Linked DNA regions of Homo sapiens: region 1 is linked to region 2. Evidence: fine-mapped expression QTL. A gene starts in region 2. The other region holds a variant in brackets. All regions are shown on one strand. Distances are between the middles of the regions.

Region 1 (5,389 bases), 33 kb before region 2:
ATATACCAATATATATTCTGAGGTAATATACCTAGGATTACTAAGTGCATAGCAGAAATAAAACACTGATTCAAGGTCAAATTTTAAGCCCAGAGATTTATTTTAATTTAATTTATTTTATTTTAATTGCTCAGATGGTCAGGGGCATCATAGAGGACTTGTGACAAGGGCAATGCCAGGTAGGTTCCCCTGAGGACTGAGTGCCAGAAAATGAAGCTAGGTTGAGAAATAGCCTAATTCTCTCTGCCAAATTTGCCTGATTTAGCAAGTGGAAGAGCTGGGTATCTGACATCTGCATGTATATATGAGGTGAATCCAGACTCAATGCAGACAACATGATTGGGAAAAACTGGGATATGACAGTAAGATAAGTCATCATTGTCCTCATTATAATGATTACAGCTTATTCTTTAATAACATAGTGTCTGTCTACAGATAAAGATGACCACATCAATATTACTGCATCACTTATTACAGGATTAAAATTTTTTCCTTACTGAAAATGGCACCCAACAAACATAATGGGAATCAAATTCCAATATAGATAATCAAATCATTAACTGCTCCATAATCTTAATAAGGATGGTTCCTTTCAGAATGGATTTGCTATCACTTCCAAATGGCTCAAATCAAGTATTACAATCACATCTATCATCTCTGATCTAGTTTTTGACATCTAGTGGTTAAAGGATTATATTTAAAATCATGACTACACACTCCGTCTTTGTCATGATTTTTAAAACTATCATCTTCACATAGAAGCAAGATTGATTATATGTCTAGTTTGGGACTTATATCCTGTCTTCTAATGTACACAATCCATTCAGAGTGAAAGATACAGAATGCAAGCAAGCTTACCTTTGGTTTCCAGACTTGTGAACGTTTGCGGAGTAATTTCAGTGCACTCACATATTCCGCTTGTATCCTTCGAGCTGGCACAATCAAGTCTCCATCAGATTTAGTTACAGCTACCAGATCTGCCATCTCGATTATACCCCTTTTGATACCCTAAAGAGATCAGAAACATTTAATGACAACCAACATAAAAATGGGAAAACTAGTCAATGCTCAGATTTTGAAAGTCATACATTTCATTAACTTTTCATCCATATCCTCCTAAGCCCTGGATGCCAAGAATCACCATTACTTGACAGAAATTACTCAAAAGCATTGGCTATTGGAATTATAGAAGTCATCTGTAATATCTCTTCCAAATTTAGAGACTAACATGTTGAAATACATTCAGAATTAGGGTAAATACATCAAGTCACAACATGATTGAGTGGCAGGACAGTTCACATTATCTCGTGATGGAATGTGCTTCTCCTGAGCTAACACTGCAGGATGCAAAACCATTCATCATTAAGGTGCTTAAAAAGAAAACACCTATCCTTAACATCTGCATTTCCAGAAAAAAGTCTTTGAAATTTTCCTTAAATGTATATAGCATTTTATTTTCAATTTGCATTTGAGGAAAAAGAACCTGATGCCTAAAAATATGTCAATCTCTTTTTTTATTATTATTTATTTTTATACTTTGTATTTTTCTTATTTCAGCTTTGCGTGGACAAACCTCAATCTCTTAATTCAAATTATGTCACATAAAAATATTAGAAATAAAGGATGAAATCCAAAAGCCAAACCTTATTTAGTAAATACAGATTTTTCTACATAAGATTAAAATTTCTTTTCAAATATTTTTAAACAAAACATTCAATTATGAAATACTAATAGTTAATGTTTCTAAATAAGCAGCGATAGTCTGCAATCACTATGTTTTAGAATTATAAAATTGAAACAGAAGCATTGTATAACAAATAATTTGTCTGGGCTAGGTGTGGTGGCTCACACCAGTAATCCCAGCACTTAAGGAGGCTAAGGCAGAAGGATTGCCTGAGGTCAAGAGTTCAAGACCAACTCGGGCAACAAAGCAAGACTTCATCTGTAGAAAAAAAAATTAAAAAATTAGCCGAGAGTGGTTGCACATGGCTGTAGTCCCAGCTACCTGGGAGGCTGAGGCAGGAGGGTAGCTTGAGCCCAGGAGTTCAAGGTTACAGTGAGCTATGATCATGCCACTGCACTCCAGCCTGGGAAACAGAGTGAGACCCTGTCTCTGAAAAAAAAAAGGAAAAAATTTGTCTGGTTTTTGGGTTTCTGGGAGGTAATCTTTTAAGTTCTAAATTCCCAGAATTTCCTGAGTAACAGGAGTGTCTGTTATTCATGGGAGGTGCCTGGGGCTATACCTGGGTTTTTTTGTTGTTGTTGTTGTTTTGAGACAGAGTCTCACTCTGTCACCTAGGCTGGAGTGCAGTGGTGCGATCTTGGCTCA[C/G]TGCAAACTCTGCCTCCCGGGTTCAAGCCATTCTCCTGCCTCAGCCTCCCAAGTAGCTGGGACTACAGGCGCCTGCCACCATGCCCGGCTAATTTTTTTTGTATTTTTAGTAGAGACGGGGTTTCACCATGTTAGCCAGGATGGTCTCAATCTCCTGACCTCGTGATCCGCCCACCTCGGCCTCCCAAAGTGCTGGGATTACATGCGTGAGCCACTGCGCCCGGCCTATACCTGAGTTTATGCAATGAGATCACTCAGGATGGGAGACTGACCATGGCAGAAAGACTTATCATGTGATTAGAGGGTTGGGGTTTTATGCCATGTGATATCAACCCAACTTCCAGGGAGGGGACAGGGGCTAGAGATCAACTTCAATTATTCAGTCAATCATGCCTACATAATGAAACCCCAAGAAAAACTTGGGACACTAAAGCTCAGGGGAGCCTTCTGGTTGGTGATACACATCAATATGCCAGGAGAGAAATGTGTCTTGAGGACACAGAAGCTTTGCATTTCGGCCCTCCCAGGCTTCTTATGTGTGTCTTCATTTGGATGGTCCTGATTTGTCTCCTTTATAAGCACGCTGCAATTGTAATATAGTGCTTTCCTGAGTTCTCTGAGTCACTCTAGTGCAAGGGTCCCCAACCCCCAGGCCACGGAGGAACTGGGCCTCACAGCAGGGGGGCAGCAGGGGGGCGAGCATTACTGCCTAAGCTCTGTCCCGTTAGATCAGCAACAACATTTGATTCTCATAGGAGCACAAACTCTATTGTCAACTATGCATGCTAGGCATCTAGGTTGTGCACTCCTTATGATAATCTAATTGATGCCTGATGATCTGAGGTGGAACAGTTTCATCCTGAAACCATCCCCCCTTACCCCCAGTCTGTGGAAAACTGTCTTCCATGAAACCAGTTCCTGATGCCAAAAAGGTTGGGGACCACTGTTCTAGTGAATTACTAAACCTAAGGGATAATGGGAACCCTCAAATTTATAGCCCGTTGGTCAGAGGTATGGGTGGCCTGGGAACCCTGGAGCTTGCAGCTAGTAGTGTCTGCAGTGAGAGGAGGCTTGTGGAGGACTCTGCCCTCACCCTATAAAGTCTGCACTAACTTTAGGTAGTTGTGCCAGAACTGCGGTGCAGAGGAGAGTAAGAATCTCATTGTACAACATATAAACTATGATAGTGGGATCCCACTCTCCCCAGAACTTTTGAATCAACGTACTAACAACATCTATGCAACAATGGTCTCTACTGGCTGGAGCGATCCATGTATTTCAGTCATGTTACAGATGGAAAAATTAATGTTGCATAATTTTACATTCTCAAGGACACATATTCTATTCCTGTAAGTTAGGAAAAAATATAGAGAATCTGCCTTTGATTCAGGTATTTTAGCCAACATGAATGATATTTCATTTTCTAAACCATTATCAACTTAGTTTACAAAAACACAACATTGGAAATTTTTATTTTCAGAGATATACATTTTATATTTTTGGGGGAAAAAATAAAAATAATTACCTGCAGCTCATCTCCTCCTGCTGGTGGCAGTAGTAAAACAAACATGTCAACCATGTCAGCAACAGCAAACTCCGACTGACCCACACCTGAAATTGTAAATCACAACTATATCCTAAAATACTCACCATTATTTGACTTTCTCAACTACATTGACCATTTCCATTCTACTTCATTTACTCATACTCATGGTCACACAGTCAACCTGGTCACTCCTTTAAACATCTCACTTCTGAAGAATGTATTAAATGTCATATCTTACCCTCTAAGCAAACCCGTTATCCTTCCCAGCTCTCCCGCTCCGTTCTTGGATTGAATGGAGAACCTAAAGGCTTCCATCCTCTCCTCACTCTCACAGCTCTTTCTTGGCTTCCTTTTCATCAGCGAGCAGCTTGAACACTGTGACTCTAATCTTGAATCATGCCTACAAATACTTTCATCTTTTTTGTCTTCTTGTCCTCATACTTGCCTGCAAACGCCCAATTATGTATGGATCAATCCAACTATGTGTGTTCTCTCCTCCATAGGCACGTGAGAGAAATCACTCAACTCTGTGGACAAGAGCCACGACAGGCAGCCTCTGCTACATCTTCCTTACGGCCTGGCAAAAGCAATCTCCCTAAATGCCCTCGGTTGGCTTCCGTTCCATTTCCCACAGCAGCTATTATGAACATTCACTGTCCCATAATCTCCCCGCTTGATGAGGACTACAGCACCTACTTCACAGAGGAAATAAAGGCAAGAACTTCCTAGGCTTCTCCCTCTCCCGTACTCCACAGGTAACAAGACACAAATACAAACTCAGCCTTACTGCCTCCTCTGCAGTCTCAGTGTAATAAGAACTATTTGACTGAAAAGGAATCTCTCATTCCTTTCCACTTCCTCTGGGTCCTTGCTGATTATTATCTTTAACCTCTCATTTATCTACAGGCTCTTGCCCCCCGGCACAATACATAAATTGTGCTCAAATCTTTCTCATCTTAAAGCCACATAAAACAAAAACAACAACAACAAAATAACAAGACAAAAACTCACAAACTCCTCCAACTATCACCACGTTTCTCACTTTTATTAAAATACTCGTTTCTGGAAAAAGGTAATTTATGCTGACTCCTTCCACTTCACTTCATGTTCATCTCACCCCACTTAAAACTGTCTTCCAGCCCGGGTGATGTAGTGAGACCCTGTCTCTACAAAAAATACAAAAATTAGCTGGGCATGGTGGTATACCTGTAGTCCCAGCTACTTGGGAAGCTGAGGTGGAAGGACAGCTTGAACCTGAGCCTGGGAGGTTGAGGCTGCAGTGAGCTGTGATTGTACTGCTGTGCTCCCACCTGGGCAACATGGTGATACCCCACCTCAAAAAAAAATCTACTTCCACCAAAACTCTGGAAACTCTCTCCCTTTCTCGGTGTGATGGACTTCTAGTTGCCTATTTAATATTTATTCTTCCCTATTTTCTTATTCCAATGTTATTAGGAGTATCAGTGTATCAGATGAAAGACCACATTCACAAGATCTCCTTTCAGCGAGATATG
Region 2 (5,389 bases):
AGGAAAAAGGGTTTAATGGACTTACAGTTCTATGTGGCTGAGGAAGCCTCACAATCATGGCTGAAGGCAAGGAGGAGCAAGTCATGTCTTACATGGATGGCAGCAAGGAAAGAGAGAGCTTGTGTAGGGAAACTCCCATTTTTAAAACCATCAGATCCCATGAGACTCATTCACTATCATGAGAACAGCACAGGAAAGACCTGTCCCCATAATTCAATCACCTCTCACCAGGCTCCTCCCATGACACATGGGGATTGTGGGAGTTACAATTCAAGATGTGATTTGGGTAGGGACACAGCCAAACCATATCAGTTATCTTTGTATTTATAGCACAATTATTTGCTCACAGAATTAATGAATGTACACCATAATTCTGCATGGGTCAATAACTCCACTACACTGATTACTCAGTTAATTGATGTTTCTAAAATGTACATTTTTTTCTAGATTTTACAGTAATATATTTTAAGGACTTTCTTTTTAAACTGATTTCAATATATGGATATTTTCCTTCATTAAAAATTTGCTCAGCAGCAGCCAGTCTGACTTGGGATATTTATCTTGAAATTGATCCAATGAATATTCTCAATTTCAATAACTACTCTGGCAAGAAAAAGCATACAGAATTTCCTAAATCAATACAGTAGATCAGTGTCTGCAGCACAGCACAATTCGTACAGGCAATGCAGTGTTGTACCAAGTGTTTCCATTTCTCAATGCTAATCACTTTTGATTTGAAGATAAGCTGTCAAATGCCATTAATCTGTTTACCATATTCCACCCCCCCCAACCACAGAAGGCTTTATTTTCTCTTTTTCAAATAATTTCAGGAAACTTTTGTAGAGCAGGATGACTTCTTAAATAAGCAACTTTTAAATAGGTTTTAAATAGGTCATCATGAGTTAAGAGTAATAAAGAACAAATACCAAATTCATGAAGGGATTCTCTAAAGTTCTCTGTCCACTTTACTTTTTATCACTTTTCCAGTAAGATTCAGATTTCCCAATTCCTACTTTTAGGCTTAAATGTGCTTGAGAAGTCTCTATTTTTCTAAATTCCATCACCATTAAATGTTTTGATTCCCACTGCTACCACCCTATTTCAAATCCAGGCTTGAACTAGGAAGCTCTGAGACCAACTATGGAACCTGGGTAATTTCTCATATTCTCAAAGTTCCTTCACTTACAAAATGAAAACATTAAGATCTACGTATCAGGATCATGGTGAGTATAAATGAGTATGCATGAGAGAGCCTGGCACAGGGCCTGGCATCAAGCAGGTGCTAATCACCTCTAAGAAACTTTCCTCTTTTCTCTCTCCCTCCTCAGTCCTCCTTTCAGACTTCACAGCAAGACTCATTCTGAAAGGTGAATGTGATCTCCTTAGCCTCCTACTCAAATTCCTCCAAAAGTTCACCGTACCCTAGGACAGTGGTTCTCAAAGTGTAGTCCCCAGGCCAGCAGCACCTCTTGCGCTTGCCTTTCCAAAATTCCTCTAAGGAGAGTTTACTATCTTCCAAACCTGCCAACTCTCCCAACCCCAAGATTTAACTCATCTTTTACATCCTTCCCCCTCTATGATATCTCTCCTATACTACCCAGCTTAAAATCTTTCCTGACCATCCCAGTCTCTAGGACTTTTTCTGACCTCTAATTCCAATTATTTCTGAATACAAAGAGTCTTCATCTTACAATCGGGTCTGTGTCTGGATAAACCCACTGTAAAGTCAAAAAATCTTTAACTGAACCATTGTGTAAGTGTAGGACTGTACTAAGGTGAAAATCTGCAGAGGTCACAAACTAGTTGCACCTGGCCCACCCACAGAAGGTGTGTGTTAACTAAATTGGTTGCAAGTAACATTAAAAATCAAGAAAAAATACGTAAAAATACAGATCTTTGGCCTGTGTTGGAGAAAATCGGATCTGCGTTTGAGAGACCCCCATTCCCACATGGCAACAATCAGCTAAATGGTAAATGTTTCGAGCATTCACCAGCTCTTTCCATTCTAAATAAAGGTTTTCTTTTGACATCTTCAAATATCTCAAATGGTGATTTACATTTCTTATGGATATGTAACTTTTCATGCTTGTTTTGTCTCTCCTAATAGAATACAGCCCTTAAAAAACCTGTCCTTGTCTTTGACTTTTTAAAAACCTCTTGTTACCCTGAACACAAACCGGTATTTAGTGCAAAATTATTGTAAAAGAATATTCTGAACATTGTAGACAACAGCAAAATGCTGAATAATCCACACAGTTTTTCTGGAAACTTTTGGCTTTCTACCAAGTTGGAAAAGTTTTATTAGTTTATGTTTTCTAAACATATGGATTAGGGTACAACTCTTAAGACAGATAATAAAAAATTTTTATATTATTTTGGTTTAGGTCGTCTTTCATTTTCTAATGAGAAATACATATGAAGACAGCATGCCCTCTGCTGAAAGAGATTTAGACCCTGCCCGGCACGCCATGTGACGGAACCTAGATACTGTTTGTAACTTTTAGTTTGAATCCAACTTTTATATCCTGGATTTGATTTCCCAGAAAAGAGTTTCAATTTCACTCTTTGGTAGGAGTCATAGTGGCTTTCTCTGACGCGGCCTCAGGTTAACCATTTACCGGGTTTGGCAGCGACAAGGGAAGAGCCACCTTAACAAAGCTGCCTTGCTGTGGCTCAGAGATAACCTGAGAAACCTAACCAAGATGAGAATTTTAAAACACTGTTTACGTACAGGGCCTTTCTTTGTTAAAGCTTCCATTTGAACCCATTTGCCGACTCCTGCCTGTCCACACATATCCGCACCCCGAACATCAATATTAGGAGAATATTCGATAATACTCTCCTTTTCCTTCCCCCACCCCAAATCCTCCAGGGGGCGCCCCGGAGGACCGCGCTGGCCCCCCGGCGGGAGGGCGGCCGTAGGCGGGAGCCCAGTCCCGACTCCTGGACGCCGCGCGCACTCCCCATACTCACCCGCCCGAAGCCACGGAAGTGCCACCTGACCCCGCCCCTTCCGCCGGATCCTCCCACGCAGGCGCAGCGCCGACTGCAGGCGCGTGGGGCCCGGGGATCGCCTGGGGCTGGGTGGCGGTGCGGGGCATGGCCAGGGTCCCCGTGGACGTGGCCGCGCAGTTCCGGCGTGTGGCGGAGAGCGAGTGAGCGTGAAGGTCTCCCGGCCTGCAGCAGGCTGCGGAAGCTCTGCGCCGGGAAGTTCTCTGGCGGGGGAGGGGAGGGCGGTTTACGGCCTTTGGGGTAGGTTTTGCCCTTTTTAAGATCCACATGAAATCTTTCGCCTCCGAAGTTCGAGGGTAACTTTCGTTCCCTCCTGGCCTTCGCGACACCCTCGAGTCGGACGGAGGCCGAGTCGTGTCCTCACCCCCAGCAGCCTGCGGCGGCCGGGACCCCCGGAGGCCCTTCTTCCGCTCCTTGGAAACTTAAAATGTGGGGTGAGGGAGAGACGCGTTACGTTTGACAGACCGGTGAAATTAAAGACACTCAAGCTTCTCAGAGTGATTTGAAGAAATGCTCAGCGTTCTGCCGAAATATAGTTTTAAGTTTTTAAACCACGGCATGGTTTTTAAAGGCTGAAGGACCCACAGTTTTTTTCTCTTAAAGGGCACGCATTCATTTTGATTAATATTTCTTAACATGCAGCCAAAGCCAGGACTCGGGCTCACTGCTGCAGGGGTGTCCTCGGGAAGTCCCGAGGGGGGAAAGGCGCGCAAGCCTGAAATGGAGATGAAAATAAACAGGCATAATATTTGCTACCTCACTGCGTTGGGCGTAGTAGTAACTAATTCTTAAAAAACGTCTTAGATGACATATAAGTAGTAAAGCCGTTGTATGCTAATCTAGAATTTTTGAGAAAAACTTAATCACCCAAATGTTTGCTATAATGTGATGAAGATAGCATCCATCGGCAGTAGCCAGGATCAAATGACGAGTAGATATGGTTATAAATGGGGCCCATGCAGTATAATTAGTATATGAAACCAAGATGTCAGTCCTCACACAGAATTTGTGTAATGATATGCATTTGGGAGGCTTCAGGCCTTTTCAGCTATTTGATACAGGTTGATTCTTACTGAATACAGAATAATAAAAAATGAATTACTGGTCTCACCATTTTCATTATTACTATTTGGACCAAAAGACTACCACTTTTACTCCAAAGATTGATTGTAGACTCAATAGCCAATGACAGAAAATTAAGCACAAGTCTAAATGAAGCCGAGGATCTAGTAGAAAGAACACAGAATCAAACCTTTCAAATCTCAGCCTATCGAACACAAACAGATTGACAGTTCTTGAGACGGTTTACTTCCTTTCTTTAAACTTGGCGTTGCTCATCTGAACAATTGTTTCGGTAAGGGTTACGTTTGATGAAAGCTCAGTTTGTGCTACCTTAGAAGTGAAGAAGTTTGTTAATTTTAAAATTGAGTTTATCCTTACCTGCTTTTCGTTCTACAAACTCAAACACTTTCATGCATGTCACTTTTTTATTCAGAAGTTTTCTAAACAGTACAGCTTAGGGAACACATTTCCATGGAACATTAGTGTTTTGCAAAATGTTAATAGATTCTTCATGGGAAAAAAATTGCTAGCATCACCAATACTGGCGAAAATATGAACCTGTCATTATGAGGCTATGGGAAATACACTTTTGTAGAGCTCTTGCCAAAAATGTTTAACCTGAATCTGATTGTGAGGAAACACTGAGATAAATTCTGAATGTGATTTGTTCGGACTTTTCAATAAGGTTAATAAGGAAGACAATAAAAAAAGGCAGGAGGACTGATCTACATTAAAGACAGCTGTCAACTAGATAGCCTTAAGGATTTAAAAAATTTGAACCTGGGCTGGGCGCAGTGGTTCACGCCTGTAATCCCAGCACTTTGGGAGGCCGAGGCGGGTGGATCACCAGGTCAAGAGATCGAAACCATCCTGGCCAACATGGTGAAACCCTATGTCTACTAAAAATACAAAAATGAGCTGGGTGTGGTGGCACGTGCCTGTAGTCCTAGCTACTCCGGAGGCTGAGGCAGGAGAATCGCTTGAACCCGGGAGGCAGAGGTTGCAGTGAGCCGAGATTGCGCGACTGCACTCCAGCCTGGCGACAGAGACTCCAGTCTCAAAAAAACAAAACAACAACAACAACAAAAAAGTTGGTAGTTTCAGGTGAATAGTATATGAATGTTCTTTTAACTCATCTATAGATTTGAAAATTTTCAAAATAAATAGTTGAGGACAAATTGTAGCTAGCAATGCTGGAAACCCATTTCTGCCTCCCAGCAGGTGGCAGCAAATTAATACTCCATAACGTACAAGAAAATCATTGCAATTTCCTCGTCTTGGTAAATGTTTTGGATGTTGCAGACTGGCTTTTTTT

Which allele goes with the higher level. Positions count from the first base shown, and alleles are read on the strand shown. Sizes are in standard deviations (SD) of each study's normalised expression.
For the expression in prefrontal cortex of the gene that starts at base 2,996 in region 2, C is the high allele of the variant in region 1 and G is the other (moderate effect, 0.49 SD a copy in CommonMind).

What was found. PIP is the estimated chance that this variant, and not a neighbour inherited with it, causes the effect.
Region 1: its variant is the best candidate, but not a certain one, in a credible set for the expression of MMAA in prefrontal cortex (CommonMind, PIP 0.63).

Annotation. Positions count from the first base shown.
Region 1 is chr4:145,649,613-145,655,001 of GRCh38, reverse strand. MMAA (metabolism of cobalamin associated A) reads right to left here. Exons shown (of 7, transcript NM_172250.3): 5 at 3,855-3,940; 6 at 859-1,008. Among named protein-coding and RNA genes, the nearest start is that of C4orf51, 28 kb to the left of the region's middle. The variant C/G (reference allele first, on the strand shown) is at 2,330.
Region 2 is chr4:145,616,992-145,622,380 of GRCh38, reverse strand. MMAA (metabolism of cobalamin associated A) reads right to left here and starts at 2,996. Exons shown (of 7, transcript NM_172250.3): 1 at 2,974-2,996. RefSeq lists silencers at 2,628-2,697, 2,728-3,167.